4 linked regions of the Homo sapiens genome follow. The protein of the gene in region 4 interacts with the protein of the main gene of each other region in a pairwise test. Each region holds a gene or a part of one and is shown on either strand. Other genes may lie near its edges.

Region 1 (7,027 bases), on a different chromosome or scaffold from region 4:
CAATTCTACAAATATATTCCAGAATTTCCCTCTAGTGTTTTTATGGTTTGAGTTTTTTGACACAGTATGTTATCTCCTGGATTTTACTTGCCTGAGCTGCCTATTCTGTCCCCTGTTCTGTCCTGGCAGATGAGGAGGGGCCTGAGGGCCTGACCCAATTCTTGATGACAGAGGTGCGACGGCTGCGGGAAGCTCGCAAGAGCCAGCTGCAGCGGGAGCAGCAACTGCAGGCCCGGGGCCGGGTGCTCGAGGAGGAGCGGGCAGGGCTGGAGCAGCGGCTGCGGGACCAGCAGCAGGCTCAGGAGCGCTGTCAACGGCTGCGGGAGGACTGGGAGGCGGGCAGCCTGGAGCTGCTGCGGCTCAAGGATGAGAACTACATGATCGCCATGCGCCTGGCACAGCTCAGTGAGGAGAAGAACTCGGCTGTACTTCGCAGCCGTGACCTGCAGCTGGCGGTAGGCCCTGGGGAGATGGGTCGGGGAGGCAAGGGAAGGGGCAGCTTTTGCAATGTAGTAGCCAGCCAGCCTGTGTCCCAGAGCCACCATTGCTGGCTCTTTGACGTGGATAAGTCCTTTTAGTGCTCGGTGTACCTACTTCATTGGGTTATGACTGTGGTTCTCAATGGGGGGTGATTCTGACCCCCTAGAAACATCTGGCCATGTCTAGGAAATATTTCTGGTTGTCACAATTAGTGGGGATTTATTGGCATCTGGTGTGTAGAGGCCAGGGATGCTGTCAAACGCCCTGCAGGGCACAGGACAGTCCCCAGCAAAGAATTACCTAGCCTAAAACATCGGTAGGGCCGGGGCCAAGAAACACTGGGTTATGAGGATTTGATAAGTTGTTTTTTTTTTTTTTTTTTTTGAGATGGAGTCTCACCCTTGTTGCCCAGGCTGGAGTGCAGTGGTGTGATCTCGGCTCCTTGCAGCCTCTGCCTCCCGGGTTCCAGCGATTCTCCTGCCTCAGCTTCCCGGGTAGCTGGGATTACAGGCTCGTGCCACCACACCCAGCTAATTTTTGTATTTTTAGTAGAGATGGGGTTTCACCATGTTGACCCGGCTGGTCTCGAACTCCTGACCTCAGGTGATCTGCCCGCCTCGGCCTCCCAAAGTGCTGGGATTACAGGCGTGAGCCACCGTACCTGGCCCGGTGAGTTTAAGACACAGTTTCAAACATGTACAGTCCCTAGCACACTGCTCACAACTTGTGTCATCAGTAGCCATTGTTGATATTATTATCAAGAGACACATAGGTTAAACATCATGTCTTCTAATCCTCACCAAAGCACCATACGCCAAGCCCTCATTTGCAAATACAGACTCTGAGACTCAGATTAGTGAAAGGACTTGCTCAAGGTCACAGAGCCAGGAAGCGGCACAGCCTGGATTTGAACCGGGTCCGGCTGGCTCCAGTGCCAGCCCCCTTCCCACGCTGCTGTTCCGCCTACTCCCTGTGTGGGGAAGTCTCACCTGACTCCCTCCAGCAGCAAGTGAGGCTGTGCCTCCTACTGCATCTCACTTTCTTGGTTTCTGACTGGGACTCAGCAGGGGGATAATACCAGTATTTGACTGCCACAGGGCGTTGTTCCAAGGATTTAATGAGCTGATCCACGTCAAGGGCTTAGCAGTGCAGGCCGCACGGCACGCAGGAGGCTCTCTCCAGCCATGTTGCTCGAGGCTGCACAGTGGGTTCTGACCGTGGAGTTTGAAGCCTCCCTACCCCAGGAGCCTTGGGCCGTGGCTACAGCATTGCAGGTGGCTGTGAGGCTGTAGATGTGGGTGCACTGGTGTGCCAGTCCTCGGTTTGTGCACGCCAGGTGGGTCGATATCTTGGGGAGGTGAGCCCTGATGGGGGTGTTGAGGCCACCAGTTGAAGGGTCCAGGCTGCTGGTCCTGCTTGAGGATGTAGGTGGCTGGTTTGAGGTTGTGAGATGACCTTGAGGCTATCGTTCGAGGGCCTGGTTGGTGTGTGGCAGGAGACGGAGGCTTTCTGAGGAGTGATGGGCAGGGACAGGGACATGTCCCAGGCCTGCTCTACTGTGAAAAACCATGTGGCATGGGGAAGGCTTTCCTTTCTGTGCCTCAGTTTCCTCATCCTCATCACAGATAAGGATGATGTAACAATTATAAAACGGCCTTGTGCTTTATAGATACCATCCTCAGTGCTTGCCATGCACAGACCCCTTTAATTTTCCAGCCACCCTACGCTGGGGTGGACAACACTATCTTCCCCATTTCTAGAGGAGGAAACTGAGGCACAGAGAAGTTGGTTAGAGCACTTTCCCAATGTCCTGGGATTGAAGGAATTTTTTTTTTTTTTTTTTTGAGATGGAGTCTTGCTTTGTTACCCAGGCTTGAGTGCAGTGGTGAGATCTTTGCTCACTGCAACCTCTGCCTCCCACGTTCAAGCGATTCTCCTGCCTCAGCCTCCTGAGTAGCTGGGATTACAGGTGTGTGCCACCATGCCTGGCTAATTTTTTTTTTGTATTTTTAGTAGAGATGGGGTTTCACCATGTTAGCCAGGCTGGTGTCAAACTCCTGACCTCAGGCGATCTGCCCGCCTCAGCCTCCCAAAGTGCTGGATTACAGGCATGAGCCACTGTGTTCAGCCGGATTGAAGGATTTCTGAGTTGGCTCTCAGCACTGCTGAGGGGCGGTGGCTGGCAGGTAGGAGTGCTCCCCTTTCTTTACCCAGAGGGCTTCCCCTTTTTTCTGAAACAGACATGGGGCTTGCTGTAGGGTTTTCTCAGAAGAAATAATTTACTGCTTAGAGAGGACGGCGTGAGGGCTGCAGGCTGGGGGTACTGGGAGGGGCTGCAGCCCTCACGGCTTGTCCCACCTTTGGGTTGGGTGTGATGCGATTGGGAGATGTCCTGCGTGTGTGGCCATCTGGGGGCTGCTGGGACAGGGGAGGGGGATGGAAAAGAGATGGTCGGAGGTGCCTCTGTAGTCTGCAGGTCATCTGCCTCTACGCAGAGTGGCTGCTTTTTCCTATTTTAGGGACCTAAGAAGTGAAATTGGCCAGGCGCAGTGGCTCATGCCTGTAATCCCAGCACTTTGGGAGGCTGAGGCGGGTGGATCATGAGGTCAGAAGATTGAGACCATCCCGGCTAACGTGGTGAAACCCCGTCTGTACTAAAAATACAAAAAATTAGCCGGGCGTGGTGGCATGCACCTGTGGTCTCAGGGACTCGGGAGGCTGAGGCAGGAGAATTGCTTGAACCCGGGAGGTGGAGGTTGCAGTGAGTCAAGATTGAGCCACTGCACTCCAGCTTGGGCGACACAGCGAGACTCTGTCTCAAAAAACAACAACAAAAAAAGAAGTGAAATTAAACTTAGCTACTATAAATTTACCTTAATTTATAATTTATGTTTGGAGCTTTTCTGCTCCAAAATTAACAAAGGTGTTGCAGATGGATCTGAACAGAGCACCTGATCGTGCCTGGCTTGGCGGCTTGCATCCCCACCTCCCATAGGCAGGTGTGTGGCGGCTGGGATTTAATACCCTGTTTTATAAGGTGCAAATTTAATGAGCTGTTATTTCTAAGCAACATAAACTGAAGGAACGAACGCTATAATTTTGTGCTCAGTGAGTTTGTACGCCGGGATTAAATGCATCCGTATTTCCTGTTGCTCGTCGGAGACTCCCAGGTGTCCTGTCCTCTGAGCTCATCAGGGAAGCCGGCTGGCCAGGGGTCAGGCAGGAGGCCCTGGTGTGTGGCTGCGGTTTGCTGAGAGGGTGTGACCACAGTTGTCCTTGTAACGAGCTGTCTTTCTCTGGCTGTTCACAAAGCATGTTTTGTGAGTGGAAAGGAATGCGGGAGTCATGAATTTCTTTCTGAGTCTCTTGCGGAGGAGGAGGAGTGGACTGTTAATTTGTAGAATTGCCTGACCCAGCCTCCAGACCCGTGTGTGTGTGTGTGTGTGTGTGTGTGTGTGTGTGTGTGTGTGTGTGTGTGTGTGGAGGGGGGGCTGCCATTCTAACCTCTCAAGGCTGGGGAACTAGCAAGTCACTTTCCAAGAGAGGCCAGGGGACTCCTAGGGCACCAAATATTGCATGCCTGACTGTAGCACCAGAAGTCATTGTGACCTTTTCCCAACAATGACTTCATTTTATGGCCTGCCACCTGCTGCCACTCTTGTCACTGTCTGGCCACCTCAGACCCCACATGCGTCACGCTTGGCTGAGTGCACTCATAGTCCAGCAAACTGGCCATGCACGTCTGCTCCCAGCTTGGTGGTCACACCACAGCTGCCCACCCCCCATACCAGGCCAACTTCTGGCTGCACACTCCGAACTGGTGATTGGTTAGGGGCATGGGATTTTGTTTGAAGCTGTGAAGACAGCCACGGTCACACTGTGGCAGCTCTGTAGCCCTTCATAGTTTAGAGGCCTCTGCCCACTTGCTGTCTTGTTTGATTCTTGCAACACCTTTGGGAGGCAAATGATGGGGCCAGGGGATTGACTGGGCCCATTTTACTGATGAGGAAACTGAGGCCCAGAGGAGGTAAGTGACTTGCTCAGGATGACAGAGCCTAGAAGTAGCAAAATTGAAACCTGAACCCTGGAACTGGAGCTCTTGAGGGAGATGAACCAACAGCCAAATCTTCTGGAGTGGAGGCTTTGTTAGGAATTCCTTTCAGGGTGGACCAGACCAAGTCTGAGTCTCTGAGAGTGTGTTGAGGTGAGATGTTGGCTTGTTGCGGGGAGCATCTGGTTCCCGGACTGGATGAGTCCCTCAACTCTCAAAACCATTGCCCTCTCCTCTCCCCTCACACCCCCCCCGTACAGATGAGATGATTGAGGCACAGAGAGGGGCCATGACTTGCCCAGGGTCACACTGAGCTAGAGACGGAGCTGGGGTCTGACCCTGTTTTTTTTTTTTTTCTCCTTCTTTCTTTCTTCTTTCTTCCTTCTTCCTTCTTTCCTCCTCCCACTCTGCCCTCCTCCCGCCTCCTCCTTCTCCTTCTCCTCCTCCTCCTTCTCCTTCTACCTCTTCCCCCTCCCTCCTCCTCCCCTCCTCCTCCTCACCCCCTTCTCCTTCTTCTTCTTTTTTTTTTTTTTTTTTTTGAGACAGGGTCTCGCTCTGTTGCCCAGGCTGGAGTGCAGTGGCACGATTATGGTTCACTGCAGCCTCAACCTCCCAAAGCTCAAGTGATTCTCCCGCTTCAGCCTCCTGAGTAGCTGGGATAATAGGCGCGCACCACCACACCCAACTAATGTTTTAAATTTTTTTTGTCGAGACGAGGTCTCACTGTGTTAACTAGGCTAGTCTCCATCTGCCCGCCTCGGCCTTCTAAAGTGTTAGGCCTGGTTTCCCTTATTCTTTTTTTTTTTTTTTTTTTTGAGACAGAGTCTTGCTCTGCTGCCCAGGCTGGAGTGTAGCGGCGCAATCTTGGCTCACTGTAACCTCCATCTCCTGGGTTCAAATGATTCTCGTGCCTCAATCTCCCTAGTAGCTGGGACTACAGGCATGTGCCACCACGCCCAGCTCATTTTTGTATTTTTAGTAGAGACGGGGTTTCACCATGTTGGTCAGGCTGGTCTCAAACTCCTGACCTCAGGTGATCCACTGAGGGCCCGCCTCAGCCTCCCAAAGTGCTGGGATTACAGGCGTGAGCCACTGTGCCTGGCCCCACTTCTTCTTGATGCGGCCCTCCTCCTTTTCTGCCATGAGAATACTGGGCTAAATTGACGGGAGTCAGTGTCAGAAGTGCGGGACAGACAGCGTGTCGTGATGCAGCATGTCCGCCCACAAGTTCTTAGAGTGGATTCCCCTGGGAGGGTGTCCTTGGCCTTGCTACCCACTGCTCCTTCCTCAGCCCTGTTTGTTTTATATCTGTCCAGCCTGTCCTGTTTTCATAGACAAGCCTGGGGAGGACTCCTGCTTCGGCTTCTCTGGGAATCTGGGAGGCACCCAGGAGTGAGGGAGCAGGTCTTCCCACCCCTGTAACCCGTGGCTCCCAGTGTGTCTCCCTCTGGGCTGACCCATGTCTTGGGCTCCAGGTGGATCAGCTCAAGCTCAAAGTGAGTCGGCTGGAGGAAGAGTGTGCACTGCTTCGAAGGGCCAGGGGCCCGCCCCCTGGGGCAGAGGAGAAGGAGAAGGAGAAGGAGAAGGAGAAGGAGCCAGACAATGTGGACCTTGTCTCTGAGCTGCGTGCTGAGAACCAGCGGCTGACGGCGTCACTGCGGGAGTTGCAGGAGGGCCTGCAGCAGGTACCAGGGCCAGGGCTTGTGGGCACAGGCTGGGGGGTGGTCAGGAGGGCCTGCAGCAGGTACTGGGGCTTGTGGGCACAGGCTGCGGGGTGGGGGATCAGGAAGGCCTGCAGCAGGTAGCAGGGCCAGGGCTTCTGGGCACAGGCTGGGTAGCGGGGCTCAGGAGGGCCTGCAGCAGGTACCAGGGCTGGGGCCCATGGGCACGGGGGTGGGGGGTGGTCAGGAGGGCCTGCGGTAGGTACCAGGGCTGGGGCTTGTGGGCACAGGCTGGCAGGAGGTCAGGAGGGCCTGCAGCAGGTACCAGGGCTGGGGCCCATGGGCACGGGGGTGGGGGGTGGTCAGGAGGGCCTGCGGTAGGTACCAGGGCTGGGGCTTGTGGGCACAGGCTGGCAGGAGGTCAGGAGGGCCTGCAGCAGGTACCAGGGCTGGGGCCCATGGGCATGGGGGTCGGGGGAGGTCAGAAGGACCTGCAGCAGGTACCAGGGCTGGGCCTCGTGGCCATGGGGGTTGAGGGGGGGTCAGGAGGGCCTGCAGCAGGTACCAGGGCCAGCGTTCATGGGCACAGGCTGCGGGGAGGTCAGGAGGGCCTGCAGCAGGTACTAGGGCCAGGGCTCGTGGACATGGAGTGGGGGTGGGGGTCAGACCCGGAAAACAGGCCCTCTTGCTGTTTGCTTATCCTCCCAAGGCCTGGGAAGCTGAGGATTTCAGAACCAGGGATCTGAGATCTGGATGGAGTCCCGGTAGCCTCTTGCCTGAAGCTCTGAGCTGAGGGCCCTTAGCACGTGGCTGTCCCTGGTTGTCTGGTCTAGGG
Region 2 (7,027 bases), on a different chromosome or scaffold from region 4:
AGGACCTGCCTGAGGCTTTTTTACAGTCAACTTTTTTTTTTTTTTTTTGAATACGTAGGAGTGTACTCTAAACAGTAAAGAGCATACCATACTGAATATATTTTTTTTTTTTTGAGATGGAGTCTTGCTCTGTTGCCCAGGCTGGAGTGCAGTGCCGCGATCTCAGCTCACTGCAAGCTCTGCCTCGTGGGTTCATGCTATTCTCCCGCCTCAGCCTCCTGAGTAGCTGGGACTACAGGCGCCCGCCACCACGCCCGGCTAATTTTTTGTATTTTTAGTAGAGATGAGGTTTCACTGTGTTAACCAGGATGGTCTCGAGCTCCTGACCTTGTGATCCGCTCGCCTTGGCCTCCCAAAGTGCTGGGATTACAGGCGTAAGCCACCGCACCTGGCCATAGCATGCTAAATATTATACATAAACCAGTAACATAGTTGTTTATTATCATTATCAAATATTGTATACTGTACATAACTGTATGTGCTACACTTTTTATAACCACCAGCCCAGTAGGTTTATACCAGCATTACCACAAACAAATGAGTAATATATTGCACTATGATGTTACAAATGGCTAGACATCACTAGGCGATAGGAATTTTTTAGTTCCATTATAATCTTATGGGACCACCATTACATATGTGGTCCCTTGTTGACCGAAACATTGTTATGTGGCACGTAACTGTATTCTTGTCTTTAACCTAAAAAGGTTATTGAAATGCTTAAGAACGCTTTGGCATGATCAAATTTTCATTTTGGAAAGCAGTTCTGTCTGCAATGTGGAGAACAAATCAGAGCCAAAGTAGAGAACAGCTGGGATTAGGTAGAGTGATGACAGAGGAATAGTTTAGGGATTCAGGGTTTATTAAGGAAGTAAAATCAACAAGGCTTGTGATGGTTTAATTGTGAGTGAAAAGGAGCTGGCCTTGTTGGGTCATAGATTTCTATCTTTATTCAGTGGGATAGAGAACAGTGGAAAAGGGCCCAGATGAGGAGATGAGGCACCTGGTGATGTATAAACTGGACAGTGGATCTCCCAGAGACAATGGTAATTCCGTGTGACAACTGCTGTGATGGAAGAAATGCAGGCTCCTATGGGAACACTAGAAATTGGTAACTGATAGGTACTAGAAGGCTTCCTAGAGGAGGTGGTGCTCAAAATATAAATAAAAGTCATATTAGTTTATGACAAAGCTTTCTCTGAAATGCTGTAATGTGGTTTTCTGAGTTTTTGAGAAGGTAATGACTTCTGAGCCAGCCAGGAAGGCTTCAGAAATGTGCTAAACCTTGAAGGATGGGAAAAACTTGGATTTAGGATGGGTAGGGTGGAACTACCCTAGGGAATGACAGAGGCAGAGAGTAATCAAATTGCCAGTTCAGTTAAGAAAACTTGGAGAAAGTACTAGAAAGGTGACAGGTCAGGGCCTGTGGAAAGCTGTGGTTCTATAGGCAGTGGGGAACCTCTTAATGTTTTGAGGAAAGAACATTAAACTGACTACTTTCTGTAGGATGGACAGGAGGAAGAGAAGGCATTAGAGGAAACATAAATGTATTCTCTACTTTGAATCTAACACTAGATGCATTGTATTTTTGTCTGATTCTTCCTCTGCCATAGGAAGGGGGTGAGGTGGGGTGGAGTGGAGTGGAGGTTGCAGTGAGCCAAGGTCGTGCCACTGCACTTTAGCCTGGGTGACAGAGTGAGACCCTGTCTCAGAAAAAGAAAAAAAAAAAGTTTGGCGAGGTGTACAATAAAAGCACGCCAGAAAGAGACACTCACAAAACAATAAAATTTTAATATTTCAAGATGAGTTAAAAGACATTAAGGAAATGATATAAGCCGTGGAAAAACCACATAAATCAGAATTAGAAAATCTCAGAAATGAGATGATAGTAAAAGTCACTTCACAACGTAGGGCCAGTTTACCTTACCAATGTCAGCTCTTGCCATTTTCTACTTCCTGCCCCATAACACTTCACACATACCTCTGTTGTAGCCCTTTTCTTATAAATTTATAATGATTAGAGTGTCTTCCTTTCCCTGATTATAAACTCTTTGAGGCTTAAACTGAGTCTTCCTCCACCTTGTACTGCTAACATGTTTTTAGCATAGTATACTTGGCATATTGTACTTAGCGTATGGTAGGTGTCCAGTACCTGTTTATCAAATGAATGACTGAAGCCCTGTACTAAGATAGGAGGAGTCGTACTAAGATAGGAGGAGTCAAAATAAGAAGGATAGAATGAATGTGAAAGATGTTTGGAAAAAGGGATTGATGGGACTTGGTGACTGGATGGGGGATTTTTGACTTTTGTTGACCATGTCAGCCATAGACATGTCCACAAAACTTAGGAATGAGGAGAAGAAGCTGGCTCAATTGTGGAGTAAATGATAAGCTAAATTTTAGATACGGCGAGTGGGAGGTGTTGGTGAGACCCTCAGTGGATCTGCCCAGTGGTTTACGTGCACTGAACCTTGCAAGGTAACTGCAGAGAGACTAGATCATGTATCTATCTAATCCAAAAGACCAGTATATACCAAACCCGGCAGGCCCATTTGTTTCCTGAATTGCTATAATGTTTATCTCTTTGTTTGCAGCTTGGCTTGTGGAGATGTTGAAGGAAAGTTTGATATTTTATTCAATAGAGTTCAAGCAATTCAGAAGAAAAGTGGAAACTTTGATGTAAGATGTTTGTTTTTACTGAATTTAATTTTACCTTTGTAGTCACACATAAAAATAAAGTTTGCACTCCTTTAAGTCTTGATTGAACACATACCATTTTTGTTAAATTGAGTTCCCTTCATGAGCATAGGAACTTAGTAGCTGCTGAGTGGCTGGGGGAGGGAGACCTATTTACTGTTTACTATTGATCTTTATATTTTTTGAATTTGAATATTGTTACTTTATCACTGTACAAAAAACTGAAAACAGACTAGCAACACTTCCCTAAGTGATTCTGACCTCTGGGTTTGGGAAGCACAGATCTATTTCATGAATGTGATGAGGATTAAGTCAGGTAACATACATACCAACCCATCACAAGCTTAAAAGCTCTATATGAATGTTGTGTATGGTTGCCAACTAGACTGTAAACTCCTAAGAGTACAGAAGAGAGTATTCCAGGTATGAGGATAATTTGTTCATTGGGTTAAAGGTTGGGTAAAGACAACAGGCAGGAAATGTGTTTTTTATACCTTGTATTTCTCAGATTCTAATATTTTAAGTTTTTTTGTTTCACACGGGGATTCTTTAAAGATCTATTTCTATGTGACTGTATATTCCAGGGAAGGATATGTGGAGAGAGCCATGAATGGCAGAGTGGGACTGGGAATTTGAGGAGCACTTGAATTCTAACTTACTTTAAAAGTTTAGTTCCTTGACTCTCTCTTACCCATCTCTAACTTGAATTTGACAGCCAAAGAGCCAAAACTTAATAATTCATAGAATCAGTAACTGTTAACAGTTGCTGCTAAAGAATTGTATATTGAAATCTGCAAATTGATTAAGAATTAAAAACTGATTTGAAACTATTAAATAACTAGTTGAATATTACTATCAATTATGTACTGTTTGATATTTTAAAATCTCATATATCTGTTTAAAAAACTCATTTTAGCTGCTGTTGTGTGTAGGAAATTTCTTTGGCTCCACCCAAGATGCTGAATGGGAGGAGTATAAGACTGGCATCAAGAAAGGTATAGAAATTATTTTTATTTAACATATGATTTCTAATAAAATTTCAAGGGCCAGAGTTCTTGCAGAGTTGTTTTTCATTATTTAAGAATTTAAGAGTTATTTTCAGTATTTAAGAATTTAAGTTGCTTTTCATTATTAAGACTATCCGGCGCAGTGGCTCACACCTGTAATCCCCGCACTTTGGGAGGCCGAGGCATGTGGATCACCTGAGGTCAGGGGTTCAAGACCAGCCTGGCCAACATGGTGAAACCGTGTGTCTACTAAAAATATAAAAATTAGCAGGGCATGGTGGCGCATGCCTGTAATCCCAGCTCCTCGGGAGACTGAGGCAGGAGAATTGCTTGAACCTGGGAGGCGGAGATTGCAGTGAGCCGAGATTGCACCACTGCACTTCACCCTGGGCGACAGAGCAAGGCTCTGTCTCAAAAAAAAAAAAATAAAATAAATAAAATAGCCAAGCTACAAGGTTGGGTGTAGTATATCCTTAGTGGATAGCTGTTCCACATTTAGGATTGCTAAATATGGGGAATGTGAATGCATGGACTATTTACTTTTAATATAAGTATTTTTTCTATAGAGAGGCATATCTTAAGTTCTAAAGCAGATCTGGTAACTATATGGTGTCATGTCTGTTTCCCTCACTAGCTCCTATTCAGACATATGTGCTTGGTGCTAATAACCAGGAAACAGTAAAATATTTCCAGGATGCTGATGGATGTGAATTAGCTGAAAACATTACTTATCTGGGTAAGCTGATACTTGTTGTATTTTTTTTTTGTTTTTTGTTTTTTGTTTTTGAGACGGAGTCTTGCTCTGTCACCCAGGCTGGAGTGCAGTGGCGCAATCTTGGCTCACTGTAACCTCCACCTCCCGGGTTCAAGTGATTCTCCTGCCTCAGCCTCCTGAGTAGCTTGGATTACAGGCGTGTGTGACCATACCCGGCTAATTTTTTTTATATTTTTAGTAGAGACAGGGTTTCACCGTGTTAGTCAGGATCATCTCGATCTCCTTACCTCGTGATCCGCCCACCTCGGCCTCCCAGAGTGCTGGGATTACAGGCGTGAGCCACCGCGCCTGGCCGATATTTGTTGTATTTGTAATGAACATAATATAGTGTTCTCAGGAATTAGTCTCCCAGGAAATTTTTGGCTAGATTTTTCAGTGATTGCAGCCTGAGATAATGGGGTTTGGAGGGTTTTTTCCCAGAGTCTGTATATGTGCTGCTGTGCCCTTAGGACAATGCCTTTAGGACAGTGGCATTTTTTCTTTATTATTTCTACCACTTAGCCCCAATATCGTTGCGTTCCCACAACCCGGTACACACTTGTTTAGCCAACTGGAGGGATAAACTCCTTGTCTATAGTATATGGGATACTTAAGGTATAAATTATGTTCACACAAAGGAAATTTCATGTATGTGGCTTTACCATACAATCTTGCTAGGTATATACAGCTTACTTGTTAATGAGCCTCCCAACTATTTATAGCTCTAGGTTTCACTCTAAGGTTTTGGCAACTCAGGTTTTTAGTGCTGTTCTTTGGGGGCTTTTTACTCTTTTTTTACTCTCCTTTTTCTGGTTCTAGGTACACTCTTCAGTTCCAGCTTAAAGTTGTTTCCTCCACAGCCCTCTGTATTGCTTTTAGTGGCTCTTTCAATGTCTGGCTGTTTTCAAAAGCACTGTCAAATTTTGCTTTTGTTTTCCCCCCACCTGCTGGCAGTCTGCTGCCTCTTAGATCATTCAACTCTTTTTTTTTTTTTTTTTTAAGACAGTGTCTTGCTCTGTTGCTCAGGCTGGAGTGCAGTGGCATGATCTCGGCTTACTGCAACATCCGACTCCCTGGTTCAAGTGATTCTCCTGCCTCAGCCTTCCGAGTAGCTGGGATTACAGGCACGCACTACCATACCCAGCTAATTTTTGTATTTTTAGTAGAGACGGGATTTCACCATGTTGGCCAGGATGGTCTCGATCTCCTGACCTGGTGACCCGCCTGCCTCAGCCTCCCAAAGTGCTGGGATTACAGGTGTGAGCCACTGTGCTCGGCTTTTTTTTTTTTTTTTAGTTGAATTTACTATTCTTCACATTTCCTCCTTGTTGGTCTTATTTCTCTAGAAAACTTCTTCATTTCCTTTGCTGTAAATGTCCTCTCTCTCCTTCCCCATCATAGTTCATCTTGGCCTTTAGTCTTTATTTGGCTATGGCCCTCCCGTTACCAGTCTTATTTTGCACTAATCCTGTGGGACTTCTTTAAGCAAAAATTGAAGGAAGGACTTTATTTGTTTTGTTGTTTTAATATGGAACTCTTCATGAATTTGCATGTCATCCTTGTGCAGGTGCCGTGCTAATATTCTCTTTATCTTTCCAGTTTTAGTATATGTGCTGCTGAAGTGAGCACTGTTTAGTTTTAACTACACATATCAGATACGCATTTTGAAATTCTGTTGTAGATTTTAACATGAGCCTGACTTATGCAGTTCTTGGTATAGTTTGTAGATTTGGATTAAGGGCATTACTGTAGATATTTGGCAGCCATTTTACTATATGAATTTAGTGCCAGGAAAGGAAAGAGCAGCTAAGGTACTTGGGTTATTTCTGTGAAATAGATTTTTTGGATCCAGTAGGAGGATCAAGCAGTGAACTTGGTAGTGAACATGTGATAGTGAGCTTGAAATACTGGTAGGACATCCAACATATAGTTGGAAGTGAGAGTTATTATTATTATTTTTTGAGATGGACTTTCGCTCTTGTTGCCCAGACTGAATTGCAATGGCATAGTCTTGGCTCACTGCAACCTCTGCCTCCCGGATTCAAGCGATTCTTCTGCCTCAGCCTCCTGAGTAGCTGGGGTTACGGGTGTGTGCCACCATGCCCGGCTAATTTTGTATTTTTTAGTAGAGACAGGGTTTCACCATGTTGGTCAGGCTGGTCTCGAAATCCTGACCTGAGGTGATCCAGCTGCCTCAGCCTCCCAAAGTTCTGGGATTACAGGCATTAGCCACTGTGCTGGTCCGAGAGTTCTTTCTAGAGTATCAGTGTTGAAGAGTATAGGCTTTGGAGAGTTGGTCCCATAATGATGAAAAATAGAGCTGAGAAGAGGATCAAATTATTAAGGAAGAAATACAATCAGAAGGGAAGCAGGTTGATGATAGTACCTTGGTGGGTGGGGATGGTATATCTTCATCTAGGGGGTAGGAACAAAGACATAAAAGTGCTTAGAGGACTGTTTGAGAGGTAAAGATATTGTCAACTTCATGGAATCTACTGAAGATAACATAGTTTCAGGAGAACATTGGCAAATATAGGGTGACCTTTAAGAGAGTGATGGGAGAGGGAAA
Region 3 (7,027 bases), on a different chromosome or scaffold from region 4:
CCAGTTTTCTTTCTTTGCACATCTACCTGGCTCTTCTGTCCTCCCCTTCCATTTCTTGGCCTCCCTGTCACCTCCTGTCCCTGGTGGGCTCTTTCCTCTTGCCCCTTCAGCCTCCTCCTTCATACTGCATCCCTGTCCCTTTGTTCTCCTGGTCAGTGCCAGGGGTGGGTGATCCAAGTTGAATTCCAAGCCGGATTCCTTTTTCTGGTTCCTCCAAGGATGGCATGGGAAAGCATGAAGCCAATGAGAAGTGACTGGTGGGGCCTCTCTGCACCTATTAAGAGAGACAGATGACAGCACTTCTGTTGCTGCCTGGGACCTGAGCTTGTGGGCCCCAAATCCCTTTTTGCCAACACCCACGTCCCTTTGTCTCTGGGAAGCAGCAAGGCAGATGCCCCACATTCCACCACACCACCAAATAAAGAGGCAGCTTTTGTTACTTCTGTGGGCCTCCGGAAGGTTTAGGGGAGCTGCCCTAGAAAACGGCAGGGACTCTGGGGAGAACTGAGATCAAGCCAAAAGAAAAGTATAAATGGAGAAAAAAAAGGAAGGCCAGGAAGCAGGCCTGGACAGGAGCAAGCAGAGGTGTAAGTGGGGAGGAGAGGAGACGGGGACAGAAAATGTAAGCAAAGGTAGATACAGGAAGGGTGGTCAGTGAAGGGGCTTGCAGAGGAGGAAAGTGGCAGGACACGTGTCACATAGGGAAGAGTGTGGGCATTGATCTGGGATGACCTAGATTCCTGGGCCCAGCTATACCACTTAGAAATTGTGTGATCTTGGGCAAGTCACTTATCTTTCTGAGATGTCATTTCTTATCTGTAAAATGGGACTAATTTATTTATCACCTATTTATGAGGTGCCTTTATACTTGGAGGACCAGCTGTGAATGAGACAGACCACATCTCTGCCCTAATGAAGAGTACATTCTAACGGAGAGAGGCAGAAAATAAACAACACAAGTTCAGATGGCAATAAATGCTATGAACACGATATAATAATATGATACAGAGAGGAGGTGGGATGGGAGTTTATTTTATTTTATTTTGAGACAGAGTCTTACTCTGTTGCCCAGGCTGGAGTGCAATGGCACAATCTCAGCTCACTTCAACCTCTGCCTCCCAGGTTCAAGCGATTCTAGTGCCTCAGCCTCCCGAGTAGCTGAGATTACAGGCATGCGCCACCACACCTGGCTAATTATTGTATTTTTAGTAGAGATGGAGTTTCACCATGTTGGCCAGGCTGGTCTTGAAGGGAGTTTATTTTAGATATGGCAGTTAGGAAAGTCATCTTTGAGAAGATGACATTTGAGCTAAGACCTGAATAATGAAAAGGATCCAGCCATCCAAGATCTGAGGGAGGAGCATACCAGGCAGAAGCAACAGCAACTGCAAAGGCCCAGAGGTGAGAATGAGCTTCATTTGTTTGAGCGACAGAACAGAGGCCACTGTGTTTGCAGCAAAGTGCACGTGGAGGACCCTGGCAAGAGAACGTTCTGAGGCAGGCAGAGGCCAGATTACAGTGGATCTTGTAGGCCAGCCAAGAGGTTTGGCTTTCATGTTAAGTGTGGTAGAAAGCCAGGAGAGGGTCTTAGCCAGGAATGGGATGATACGATCTGCTTTACATTTTTAAAAGAGAACTTGGCCACTAAGTGGAAACACTTAAGATGGAGGGAAGTGACTCAGAACAGTGAGTCCTGTCAGCAAGTTACTGCAATAGTCCAGTCAAGAGATGATGGTCGCTTGAGTTAGGGCTGTAGAAATGGAGATGATTCAGAATATATATATATATATATTCTTTTTTTTTTTTTTTTTGAGACGGAGTCTCGCTCTGTCGCCCAGGCTGGAGTGCAGTGGCGGGATCTCGGCTCACTGCAAGCTCCGCCTCCCGGGTTCACGCCATTCTCCTGCCTCAGCCTCCCAAGTAGCTGGGACTACAGGCGCCCGCCACTACGCCCGGCTAATTTTTTGTATTTTTAGTAGAGACGGGGTTTCACCGTTTTAGCCGGGATGGTCTCGATCTCCTGACCTCGTGATCCGCCCGCCTCGGCCTCCCAAAGTGCTGGGATTACAGGCGTGAGCCACCGCGCCCGGCCCAGAATATATTTTGAAGGTGAAGCCCTCGGGATTTGCTAATGAATTCGATCAGGGGATAACAGAGACATGAAAGATGACTTTGCCTTGAGAAAATTGATGGAAGGTGGTGATGTTTATTGAATTGGGAAAGACTTGGCAAGGGGTAAGTTTTGGGGCTAGGGGAGCCATTTAAAACATGTTTTCCTCTGTTGAGTTTGAAGTAACTGTGGACATCCAAGTGAATATATTGAGGCAGTTGGATATATAAAGGCAGAACCAGGGAGAAAACAGGGCCGGAGATGTAAATTTGGAGTCATTAGCATATAATTGGCATTAGAATCCATGGGAAATAATGGTGCAGTCACATGGAGAGACACCAGAAGAGGAGAAAGGGTCCAGTCCCAGAGACACTCCAGTATTTAGAGGTCCAGTATAGAAGGAGAAATGAACAAAAGAGTAAAGTGAGAGGAACTCCTGGAGCATGTCATGCCCTGTAAGCCAGAGCAGAAAGTGCTTCAAGGAGACAGTGATCCACTGTGTCAGGTTGCTAAGTCAAGTGAGATGGTCTTGGATTTGGCAAGAGAGAGGACCCTGAGACATCTCAGTGCATGGAGGCACCGATTGGATTGGGTTTGGAGAGGAAATGGGAGATGAAGGTGAGTACCGATAACTCCAGTAGTCATTTTGAAGAGAAGCAGAGAAGTAAGGGAAATAGGGTCAAAAGATTATTTCTTTTCTTTTTTCAAAGGTAGGAAATGCTAGATCATGTATAATGAAAGAAAAGATCCAGTACAAAAAAAGGCCTTTGCCTGGAGAAGGAACGTTCCTCCATTCAAACGGGCGAAAAGTCAGAATTGAAGCAGAGATGCAGGCAGGAACTACCTGGGAAAATAGGGTTCTATTTTTTTTTTTTTTGAGACGGAGTCTCGCTGTGTCGCCCAGGCTGGAGTGCAGTGGCGTGATCTCGGCTCACTGCAAGCTCCGCCTCCCGGGTTCACGCCATTCTCCTGCCTCAGCCTCCCGAGTAGCTGAGACTACAGGCGCCCGCCACCACACCCGGCTAATTTTTTGTATTTTTAGTAGAGGCGGGGTTTCACTGTGTTAGCCAGGATGGTCTCGATCTCCTGACCTCATGATCCGCCCGCCTCTGCCTCCCAAAGTGCTGGGATTAAAGGCGTGAGCCACCGCGCCCGGCCGAAAATAGGGTTCCAGAGCGATTCTCTCCTCAGTAGAGTTTTTTGTTTGTTTTGAGACGAAGTCTTGCTCTGTCACCCAGGCTGGAGTGCAGTGGCGAGATCTTGGCCCACTGCAACCTCCTCCTCCTGGGTTGAAGCAATTCTTCTGCCTCAGCTTCGCGAGTAGCTGGGACTACAAATGCCAGCCACCACACCCGGCTAATTTTTGTATATTTAGTAGAGATGGGGTTTCGCCATTTTGGCCAGGCTGGTCTCCAACCCCTGATCTCAAGTGATCCACCAGCCTCAGCCTCCCAAAGTGCTGGGATTAAAGGTGTGAGCCACCGTGTTTGGCCGACAATACCATTTTTTTAGGGCCAGAAGCACCTAAGAGAGAGTTGAACCCTAACATCAAAAGCATATTAGGGAGGTGGAGGTTGGTCTGTTTCTCCAGAACACCCACCCCAGACTCTAGGGCCTTTGTCCTAATGGCCAGCTTCCTCTTGTGTCTCCCTAGCTAGACAGACCTCACTGTGCTGCTCAGTAGTGGGGGTAGAGCGGACTTTTCTTCCAATAGGAAGTCAGAGAATCTAACAGGAGATTCTTGGCCTTGGCACGCAGTTAAGGATCAGTTAATAGTTGTTGAATAGATCAAGGAGACGTAACAGCTAGGATCATTCTAGAACTGGAAAGATTGGCAAAAGACATGCCCATAGTTCCACATGTGAGCTCAGGGGAGCAGGGTAGATCTTCCCCTGAGATGCCCTCACCACTCAGCATCTATCTATGAAGCGTGTCCAAATTTGTCTTCTTTGAAAGTCTAGATTCTATTCTAATTTTTAAAAAATATCCAAACAGGGCCAGGTGTGGTGGCTCATGCCTGTAATCCCAGCACTTTGGGAAGCCAAGATGGATCGCCTGAGCCCAGGAGTTTGAGACCAGCCTGGGCAACAGAAAGAGACCCCCATCTCTACATTAAAAAAAAAAAAAAAAAAAAAAAAAGCAGGGCATGGTAGCCCATGCCTGTAGTCTCAGATATTAGGGATGCTGAGGAGGGAGGATTGCTTGAGCCCAGGAAGTCAAGGCTGCAGTGAGCCATGATCATGCCACTCCACTCCAGCCTGGGCAACAGAACAAGACTGTCTCAAAAACAGAAAGGAAAACCCCCCAAACCCCAAATGTTTAGTTCTGTACACATAAGAGATACTTAGCAAAAGTTTGTTGAATAGATGAACTGCTGCCTTACTTATGCATGAATACATCAAATATCTATTGAGCTTCGTTTTCAGGCACAATACTAGATCCTGGAGCTGTAATGGTGAGCAAACCAGATATGCTCTCTGCCTCGATAAAGCTTATAACCAAGTGAAGGGGAGACTTAAGTACACACACACATATAGCAAAGTACAAGGTTTTATGAGACCATTTAATAGAGGACTTCTCTTATTTTTTTTTGAGGAAGTGGAGGTACAGGCTAGAAAAGTTGACATCTGAGTGGTGAGTAGAATGAGCAGAAGTTGGGGGAAGGGGATGGGAGAATGTGCCTTGCAAAGGATTTATGGGAAAATCCTGACCCTCCCAACCCAATCCTCATTAATTCTCTAATCCTGGCCCTCAAATCCTAAATTCACTGTTGGTGTCAGTGCCTTTTACTCTCTCCACTTTTTCGTTCTGATCCCAGATGGGTACATGTGTCTAGAAACTCTGAGATGCTCCATAGATACAGAGAACTCTTAACTCATTATTTTGTAAATTAAAAAATAGAAAATATAGGCTTGTTCTGAAAATCCAAACAGCACAGATAGATATGATATGTAAAGTAAAAACCTTACCACATGTTATCCCATACCTCAGAAACAACTACTCATTATGGTTTGGGCATAGATCTTTCCAGGCCTTTTTCTATATGTTTGTCCATTTGTGTGTTATATACTATACATAAAATATTTTTTGCAAAAATTAGATCATAGCATATATTTTACAGCTCTTTTTCTTCAGTTAATATGGAAACTTCTTTGTTTTCACCATAGATCTGATACTTTCTTTTAAATGGCTGCATGATATTCTATTTAACTATCATCAGTTTATTTATTTATTATTGTTATTATTTTTCGAGACCGAGTCTCACTCTGTTGCCCAGGCTGGAGTGCAGTGGTGCGATCTTGGCTCACAGCAACCTCTGCCTCCCGGGCTCAAATGATTCTCCTGTCTCAGCCTCCCAAGTAGCTGGGATTACAGGGGCGTGCCACCACACCTGGCTTTCTTTTTTTTTTTTTTTTAGCGAAGACTGGGTTTCACCATGTTGGCCAGGCTGGTCTTGAACTCCTGACCTCAAGTGATCCACCTGCCTTGGCCTCCCAAAGTGCTGGGATTATAGGCGTGAGCCACTGCTCCCAGCCTATCATCAATTTAAACAATCCCTTATCGACTGACACTTAGATTATTATCCCGTGTTTGGTTATTATGCAGTGAACTTATATTTGAATTTGAGTTGTGAACTCTAAATGCACATTGTTTTAGGTCCAGTACTTACCACAGGTAGGTCATGGGAACTCTGAGGCTCTGTAATTTCTGAGCTCTCAGGATGAATAGGTGAAAATAGTCTGTATACATTTTTTGAGTCAGGGGATTTTTAGAAAGATTCAGGGCATCAAGAAAATACTATAAATGAAGTTAGGTCTTTAACTGTCAGGTGATTCCTTAGAAGCATGAAATACTTTTTGTTTACAGTAGACTAAGTGATTGTTTTGGTGCCAGGCCTCAAAATCTACTTTTCTATTGGACCTTACTACATAGAGTCACTCTCTTTTCCCTTCTTAGGTACTCCTTTTATTCCGTCCGGCATGATGCTACACTTCTCTGATGGGGTAGAGACAAGGTTTTCAGGACTTTGCAGACAAGAAATAAGTCTCCCTTTAATTTTGTGCCTCTAGAACATGGTAGGTTAGTTCACCTGCCCTCTTGATCATCTCAACCTTTGGACTTTGCAGGTGAGCTGCGTTCTCTACGGGAGGAGATTTCCCTGTTAGAGCATGAGAAAGAAAGCGAACTTAAGGAAATAGAACAGGAATTGCATTTGGCCCAGGCTGAGATCCAGAGTCTGCGGCAAGCAGCAGAGGATTCCGCAACTGAACATGAGAGTGACATAGCATCCCTGCAGGAGGATCTCTGCCGGATGCAGAATGAACTTGAAGACATGGAACGCATTCGGGGAGATTATGAGATGGAGATCGCCTCCCTCCGTGCAGAAATGGAAATGAAGAGCTCTGAACCATCCGGTAGTTTAGGTCTCTCAGATTACTCTGGGTTACAAGGTATGAGAGCCATCAAGTGGGTCAGTAAAGTCAAGCAGAGGAAAGGAGATAATATATAGGAAAATGGTAGAAGGTGGTGTTAGATCATGAATTGGGAATCTCTAGAAAAAACCTCCAGGTTGAATTCAAGACTGTAGGGGTCCAGGCGTGATGGCTCATGCCTGTAATCCCAGAACTTTGGGAGGCCAAGATGGGAGGATCACTCGAGCCCAGGCATTCATGAGCAGCCTGGGCAATGAAGTGAGACCCTATCTCTTTCTAAAAGAAAAATTTAAATAAAAATTTTAAAAAGACAGTAAAGGGGAAAAACCTACCCAGATGTTACATAACCAGTCCATGGTGGTGTAAGAAATAGCACCATGGAGAGGTACCCTGGGAATTCTTCAGAGAGTCATTGGGTCTTTGTTGATTTGACTATGGGAAAACCCTTCCTGGGAAAATTTCCAGCTCTAGGATGGGCAAAGAG
Region 4 (7,027 bases):
ATTTTTATATTTTAGAAGTCATAGAAGCAATACATATTAATTGTATGATAACCACATTAAAAGTATAACTAATATTTAATACTGGAATTTAGTTTCAGTGGTAGAAGATGGTGGATTAAGCTGGCTAAGGAAATCTTATCTAAGAATGAAGGAACAAGCTGAGAAACAAAGTAGAAACTTTGAGGACATTGTAGCCGAAAGATATGGGGTGAGTATCTGTTTTAAGGAGATGCCTCTTATTTTCAGAATTAGGTGAAAAATTAAGTGCCTTTAGCTTTGTTTTGTGCCATGAAGAATTGAATTAATATTTCATGTCTTTATACTACTGAAGTAATTTTCTGCTTTTCATTATTATTAAACATGTATCATATTTTTATTGACATAATGAATGTAAAGCTTAAGTATATAAAACTTAAATGTGGGTGTGTTTAATGTAAAAAAAATTTTCTTATTGTGAGAAAATTTAAACAATGCCGGAAAGTCTGCATGGTACACTTCTGGAGGTAACCACTGTTGAAATTTTTTATATTCCAGAGTTAGGTATATTCTAGAGTTTGGGTACTTTACGGATTTTTTTAAAAGAGTGTATATATACTCTTAAAACAATGAAACTGTGCAACAGTATATATTTTAGAACCAGTTTCCCCATCGTTCTGGACAATCTTTCTATTGCAGTAATTACTGATATTCTTTTTTTTCTCTTCAATTGCCGGGGGAAAGCAGGTTTAGAAAGTAGTAAGATTTCTGGAATATATTTTTCCAGATATTTTCCCCCAGAGTTTTAAAGTAGACTCGTAGAATATGCCCTGGCTTTTTAAACTTAATAATGTACACATAGTTGGATGCCAGTAAATATATACATTTTAATGACCTGTTAATTTTTTTAATATATTTATAGGCTTTTCCTTTATTTATTGGTCAGTAGATGACCATTTATATGCTTTTCCTTTCCCTTGTTAGATAGCACTGTGCTGACTGTCTATGCCCAATGCATTTTGCATATTTTTCTTGTTGGTGAATTACTAAAAGTGAAATTGCCTGTTTAAAGGATATAGACATTTAAAGCAAGGTACATATTGCCAGATTTCTCTACAGAAAGAATGAGCAAATCATACTTAAAAATATCTCTTTTATCACATAATTTTCAACAGTAAGATTAGTTCTTATAGTTCATGCTGTTGTGATTGGCAGAGTTTTTAAGTTTTGCTTTTGTTTTTATACATTTGTTTACTGGTGAATTGGAATTTTATTTTTATTTTGAGGTGGAGTCTTGCTCTGTCACCCAGGCTGGAGTGCGGTGGCACGATCTCAGCTCACTGCAACCTCTGCCTCCTCGGTTCAAGTGATTCTCTTGCCTCAGCCTCCCAAGTAGCTGGGACTGCAGGAGCACACCACCACGCCTGGCTAATTTTTGTATTTTTAGTTTTTAGTAGAGACAGGGTTTCACCATATTGGTCAGGCTGGTCTTGAACTCCTGACCTCGTGATCTGCCCACCTTGGCCTCCCACAGTGCTGGGATTACAGGCGTGAGCCACTGCGCCCAGCCGAATTGGAATTTTTTTACATTTATTTTGACCATTTGTATTTTTTAGTGAATTGACTATTGATATTGTTTTCCATTTTTCTTTTGGGATAATAATTTAAGACTTTTTAATAAATCTGTTCAGATTTCTCCCCCTCGGCTTGATGTTTTTTACTTCGTTGATAATTTGCTATGGATAAGTTTTAAATATTTTTACCTATCAAAATCCCTCATATTATTTTTTCATGAATTAGTGCTCTTGGTATAATTTATTGACAGGCCTTCCCCACCCCACAATCGTAAAAATATGCAGCTGTACTTACTTGAGTGCTTGTTCAGTTTTATTTTTTATGTTTTATCTTTAATTTTTCTGGAATATATATTTGTGCATGGTATGAAATAGGCATCAAACTTTGCATAAGTCTTATATAGTTGTTTGCTATATATTGAATGAATTATTTTTTCTCACTAATTTGAAATGACACATTTGTTATACATTAAATTTTCTCATATACATGGGTCTGTTCCTTTACTCTCGGATCTGTTTCATTGATTTTTCTATCTTTTCCTGGAATTTGTATCATACTTTTCTAATTATTGTGGTTTTCAGTAAATTATGCAGATAGCAAATAATAAACACCTACTATGTGGTAGTCACTATGTGATAAATCTCTTGTTAGTCACCAAAAAAATTAGCTTTGCTTTCTTATGTGTTTAGTTTTCTTAGTAAATTTAGTTTAAGCTCAATAGAAATAAATATTTTTCCAAAATTTGTTATAAATTTACGACTCTTTTTGGAGTTTTTATTTAAATTTAACTAAATGTATAGATAAATTAAGGACAACTAGTATCTTTATAATATAGAGTCATCCCATCCCAAAACACTATTTATTTATGCTCTTCAGTATTTTTCTCTGTGCAGTTATTATGCATATGCCATTGAGGTTATTTTTATTTTTTTATATTATAAATTGAATTTTAAAAATGTTTTCTGACTTGGTGTTGGTGCTGGTCGGCCAATTCTTTAAACTTTTATTATCCTAATTTTAAAAATTTTGGGTTATGTGGAAAGGTAGTTATATGCAAATAATTATTTTGTTTTTTTCCTCTCTGTTAATACTTAAACTTTCTTTTCTTCTTGAAATAGTTATAATTTTAGAACTTTGATAACAGGATTGGAAGCTGGTATTGCCTTTTTGTCTAAAGACAAAATAATGACTTTTGCATTTAAGATTAAGAGTATCATGTTTAAGTATCCTTATATTCAAAGTTGAGTAAAAGGTACTTTTTTGTTTTTTTTTAATTTTATTTTTTTATTTTTTATGTTGTATATGTTTAAGGTATGTATTCCATGACGTTTTGATATGCATGGGGAAATAATTACTAGAGTTAAGCAAACTAGTGTATCATTTATCTTACGTAGTTATTCTCCTTTTTTTTTTGTGGTAAAAATACCTAAAATCTACTCTCTTAGCAAATTTTCAGTATATAATGTGATATTATTAACTGTAGTCCTCATACTGTACATCGTATCTCCAGGCTTAGTTATCTTACATAATGGAAACTTCTGACTCTTTGACCTCCATCTTCTCATCCCCTCTCCTTCCAGTAACCACCTTCCTACTTTCTGTTTCTATGTATGATGCATCTTTTCCTTGAAAATTGTTTTAAAGTTTGCAACTACAAGAACAGTTATTTAGACTTGACCATTGCATTTGACATTTGGTTTTTAGCATCTGTTCTTTTTTTCAGAGATCTTTGCCCGAATTCATTGATGGTGTGTCTTAATCATCTTGAGTAATTTTTTTCCCTCAGAATTGCTAGTGATATGCCCTCTGATTCCCTGCATTTTTGAAAATGATTTTCTTTGGCCCATACCAAGGAAGGATAATTTGACTGTGAATTGAATTCTCTATATAGAATTATAGCTTAATTTTGTTTTCAAAATTTAATCTTCATTCTATTATTTACTTATTATTATGGATGAACAGCTGTAAGTCTGTCTTTCCTTTGTGGATAATTTGTTATTTATCTACCCCTATCCATATACAGGCTCACACTTATTCACTCCTTCCCTGATCTAGTCCTTGTAAAGGTTTTTTTTTTTTTCCTTGAGTTTTGAGATTCAGGTATTAGGGTTTTTTTCTGTGTTTTTCTTCTTTCTCCCCCACCCAAGGCTATTGGATGAGTCCTTCTGAGAAATCGGCTGGGGAAATTTTCTTATATATTTTTAAAATTAATGCTCTATTCCCATCATCTTTGCTCCATCTTTCTGGAAGTACTAATAAATGCATATTAGATTTTCTAGAATCAATTGTTCATGTATCTTTTTTTCTTATAACTTACATTTATTTACTACCTTTTCCTAAAATATAGAGAATTCCCAGGTTAATTTAGTTTTCAGCACTGTCTTTTCTTCCTTTTGGTGTATCTTGGCAGCTTTTTGGGACACACAATTTTTTATTTCCAAGTCTTTCTTGTTCTTGAACTATTCTGTTTTTTTTTTTTTTTTTGGTGAGAATCTGTTTTAGCAATTTAACCTCTTGAATCTCACAACCAGTAGGAATTAAGTATTTTTTGCAAAGTTTGTCTCTACTGTTTTCTGTGTTATACTTTGTGTTAGTGCAGAGTGTTTGGTGTAACTGGCTATCCTTTTGGAATCTTTTTGTTATTTAATAATTTTTAATTGTTTACACATTTTTAGAAAGTATTCGTTTCCGTATAGGATGATTGTATGGGTCTTCTTTCACCCCGTTAGTGGGCTTTTCAGTGTGCCACTTGGCAGTGAGTCATACAGTGACATGTGGGGTGCAAGTCACTGAGCCGTTCCTAATTTTAGATATCTTGTTTAATTTTTCTCCTTTGTAGTCAATGGAAATATTTCAGTCAAAATTAGAAGATGCTGAAAAAGCTGCATCCACGAAAGAAGATTATAGACGGGAACGGTGGAGGAAACCCACATATTCAGATAAAGCACAAAATTGTCAAGAAAGTAGAGAATCAGACTTAGTAAAATATGGTAACAGTTCAAGGGATAGATATGCTACAACAGATACTGCAAAAAATAGCAATAATGAAAAATTTATTGGTGATGAAAAAGATAAGAGACCTGGGTCTTTAGAAACGTGTAGAAGAGAATCTAACCCAAGGCAAAATCAAGAGTTTTCTTTTGGCAATTTGAGAGCTAAATTCTTGAGACCCTCTGATGATGAAGAACTGTCATTTCACAGCAAGGGCAGAAAATTTGAACCACTTAGTTCATCTTCAGCATTGGTAGCTCAGGGCTCTTTGTGTAGTGGTTTTAGAAAACCCACCAAGAACAGTGAAGAAAGATTAACATCATGGAGTCGCTCTGATGGGAGAGGAGACAAGAAACATTCAAATCAAAAGCCATCGGAAACCAGTACTGATGAACACCAACATGTTCCAGAAGACCCAAGAGAAAAATCACAAGATGAAGTCTTGAGAGATGACCCTCCAAAAAAAGAACATCTACGGGATACAAAGTCTACATTTGCTGGGTATTTTATCATTTTTTAACCTAATAAGTTAAGATCCAGAGAGTTCAAAGAACAGAACTGTATTTTTAGAACATCAGTTATTAGCTGTGACTATGATCTCACATTTCTTAAAATTGATAGAAGGGGTAAGATATGCAGATTTAACAGGCAGTATTGTGGTATGGATTGCATTTTATTTCATAGGTTTTTTTTTTTTTAAGAGCTGAAAGCAGTAGCTATATTTGTTCAAAATATGTTGCTGCTTTGCAATTTAAAAAACTGAATGAGTTAATGTTTTAAATGTATGTGCTGCAGGAGATATTTTGGTAGATTTTGTTACCAATGCCATTACTTTCTAAGGAAATTATCTTATTGTTGAGTATAATCATAATCATAAATACTGCATGTCTATAGGAAGTCTAGGAGACAAAAGGAAAACACGCTGCCACGGCCCAAATATAAAGTGACAAATACATGCCAGAGATCTTGCAGAGGGGAGCATGAATTATGGTTGTTATTTTGCACAAAGAAAGAAATAATCCACTTTGGGCAATTGACAGATTTTAAAGATAATATTAGAGTTTTAAATATAAAATATATGTTGCATTTATGTAGGGCTGGGTTAGAAGATGAGGAAACCCAGGTTGAATGGGACTAAACCTAAGAAAATTTGCTTTAGAAATTTGCTGGCCCTGTTGGAGATAGCCAGAAAAAAAAGTGTCCAAAGGGTAACAACTTACACGTGAATGATCATTAAAATATGTTTAAAAATAGCACCAAATGAGTGGGACACTAAAGGAAGAGGTTTTAGGAAATAATAGAAACACATGGTTGTAGTAGATAAAAGCACTGTGGTTTGGGGTTGTGAGTCTGATAAATCACTTTTGTTAATGACTCCATCTGAAGCAGTGGATTATAAAACTCAGTGTGTAATTTTCGGTGGGAGGGAGCTGGCAAAATCTGAACTGAGTGATTAAGCCCCAGTCAAATGGACTCTGGTTCACATCAGGGCTTTCCTCCCAGGAAGTGGAAGGAGAAATCCAATTGTATTGACTAAACAAACATGGCAGGGATTATTGTCTAAGGCTGTATGCATATGTAATTGTCCAGTCTTCACTCCAGGTGCCCTGGGTGGTAGACTATTTCCAGTTCCCAGTCACTAGGGGAATGAGGCTCTTATTTCCTGATATCATTAGGATTGGGTTAGCATTTGGATGATCTGTAGGCCTTCTTCTGTGACTGTAGCTAAGCAAAATGTCTGCAAAGTAATACCACACGATTAGTATTCCAACCGGTTGTCTGATTGCTGCATATTTGTATGTCTTATTTAAGTTGTAAGCTTCTGATAGATACACTATAATACAGGCACTCACTAAAAGCTGTGTATGTATATAATTTTTCGGTTTGAAGACAGCACTCACTAAAAGCTATATATGTGTGTATATATATGTATGTATACATGTAATTTTTCCTTTGAAGACAGTATTCTTTGTTCGCTGTGTTAATTTGATGGTACAGAGGGTTTGAGGCTTTCTATGAATTCTGTGACTGGCTGGAGAGGGAAAGAAAAATCTAGGAATCATCCAAAAAAAAAGATTCCTGAGAATGTAGAGTGGTTGTAAAGTAGGAGACCAAGACAGGACCTTGAAGAATGCCTAGTTGTTACAAATAATCTTTGTCTTATAAGTGAATGGTCATGATTGGAAAAATTAGTTGAATTAGTTTTTACTTCTTTGTATGTATTGTTCATATATCTTTACCTTTCTTGTTATTTACACCAGTATTATTTTTTAGAACATGCCATTTGTAATCTTAATAAATGTATATGTATAAAATTTAAACAATATAGACAGAAGAGTATAAAACAAGAATATGAAGCATAGGTGAGTATAAAATGAAAAAGTAAATCTCCCTTTCATGTCACTTCCAACCCTAATCCTATTTGCCAGGTTAACAGTGTTGGTAGTGTCTTTCCAAATTTTTTAGTGTATTTGAAAATGTGTAA

What was found.
Region 1: the proteins of CWF19L2 (region 4) and CARD10 interact in binary tests that used the Homo sapiens proteins (3 or more experiments, as listed by UniProt).
Region 2: the proteins of CWF19L2 (region 4) and CWF19L1 interact in binary tests that used the Homo sapiens proteins (3 or more experiments, as listed by UniProt).
Region 3: the proteins of CWF19L2 (region 4) and CCDC136 interact in binary tests that used the Homo sapiens proteins (3 or more experiments, as listed by UniProt).

What each region holds. Positions count from the first base shown.
Region 1 is NC_000022.11:37,509,401-37,516,427, reverse strand, and holds part of CARD10 (caspase recruitment domain-containing protein 10), read left to right. Parts: intron 1-129; coding exon 130-455; intron 456-6,006; coding exon 6,007-6,216; intron 6,217-7,027. UniProt on the Homo sapiens protein: Scaffold protein that plays an important role in mediating the activation of NF-kappa-B via BCL10 or EGFR.
Region 2 is NC_000010.11:100,257,631-100,264,657, reverse strand, and holds part of CWF19L1 (CWF19-like protein 1), read left to right. Parts: intron 1-2,594; coding exon 2,595-2,679; intron 2,680-3,613; coding exon 3,614-3,692; intron 3,693-4,338; coding exon 4,339-4,440; intron 4,441-7,027.
Region 3 is NC_000007.14:128,794,949-128,801,975, forward strand, and holds part of CCDC136 (coiled-coil domain-containing protein 136), read left to right. Parts: intron 1-6,237; coding exon 6,238-6,561; intron 6,562-7,027. UniProt on the Homo sapiens protein: May play a role in acrosome formation in spermatogenesis and in fertilization.
Region 4 is NC_000011.10:107,426,815-107,433,841, reverse strand, and holds part of CWF19L2 (CWF19-like protein 2), read left to right. Parts: intron 1-92; coding exon 93-208; intron 209-4,390; coding exon 4,391-5,043; intron 5,044-7,027.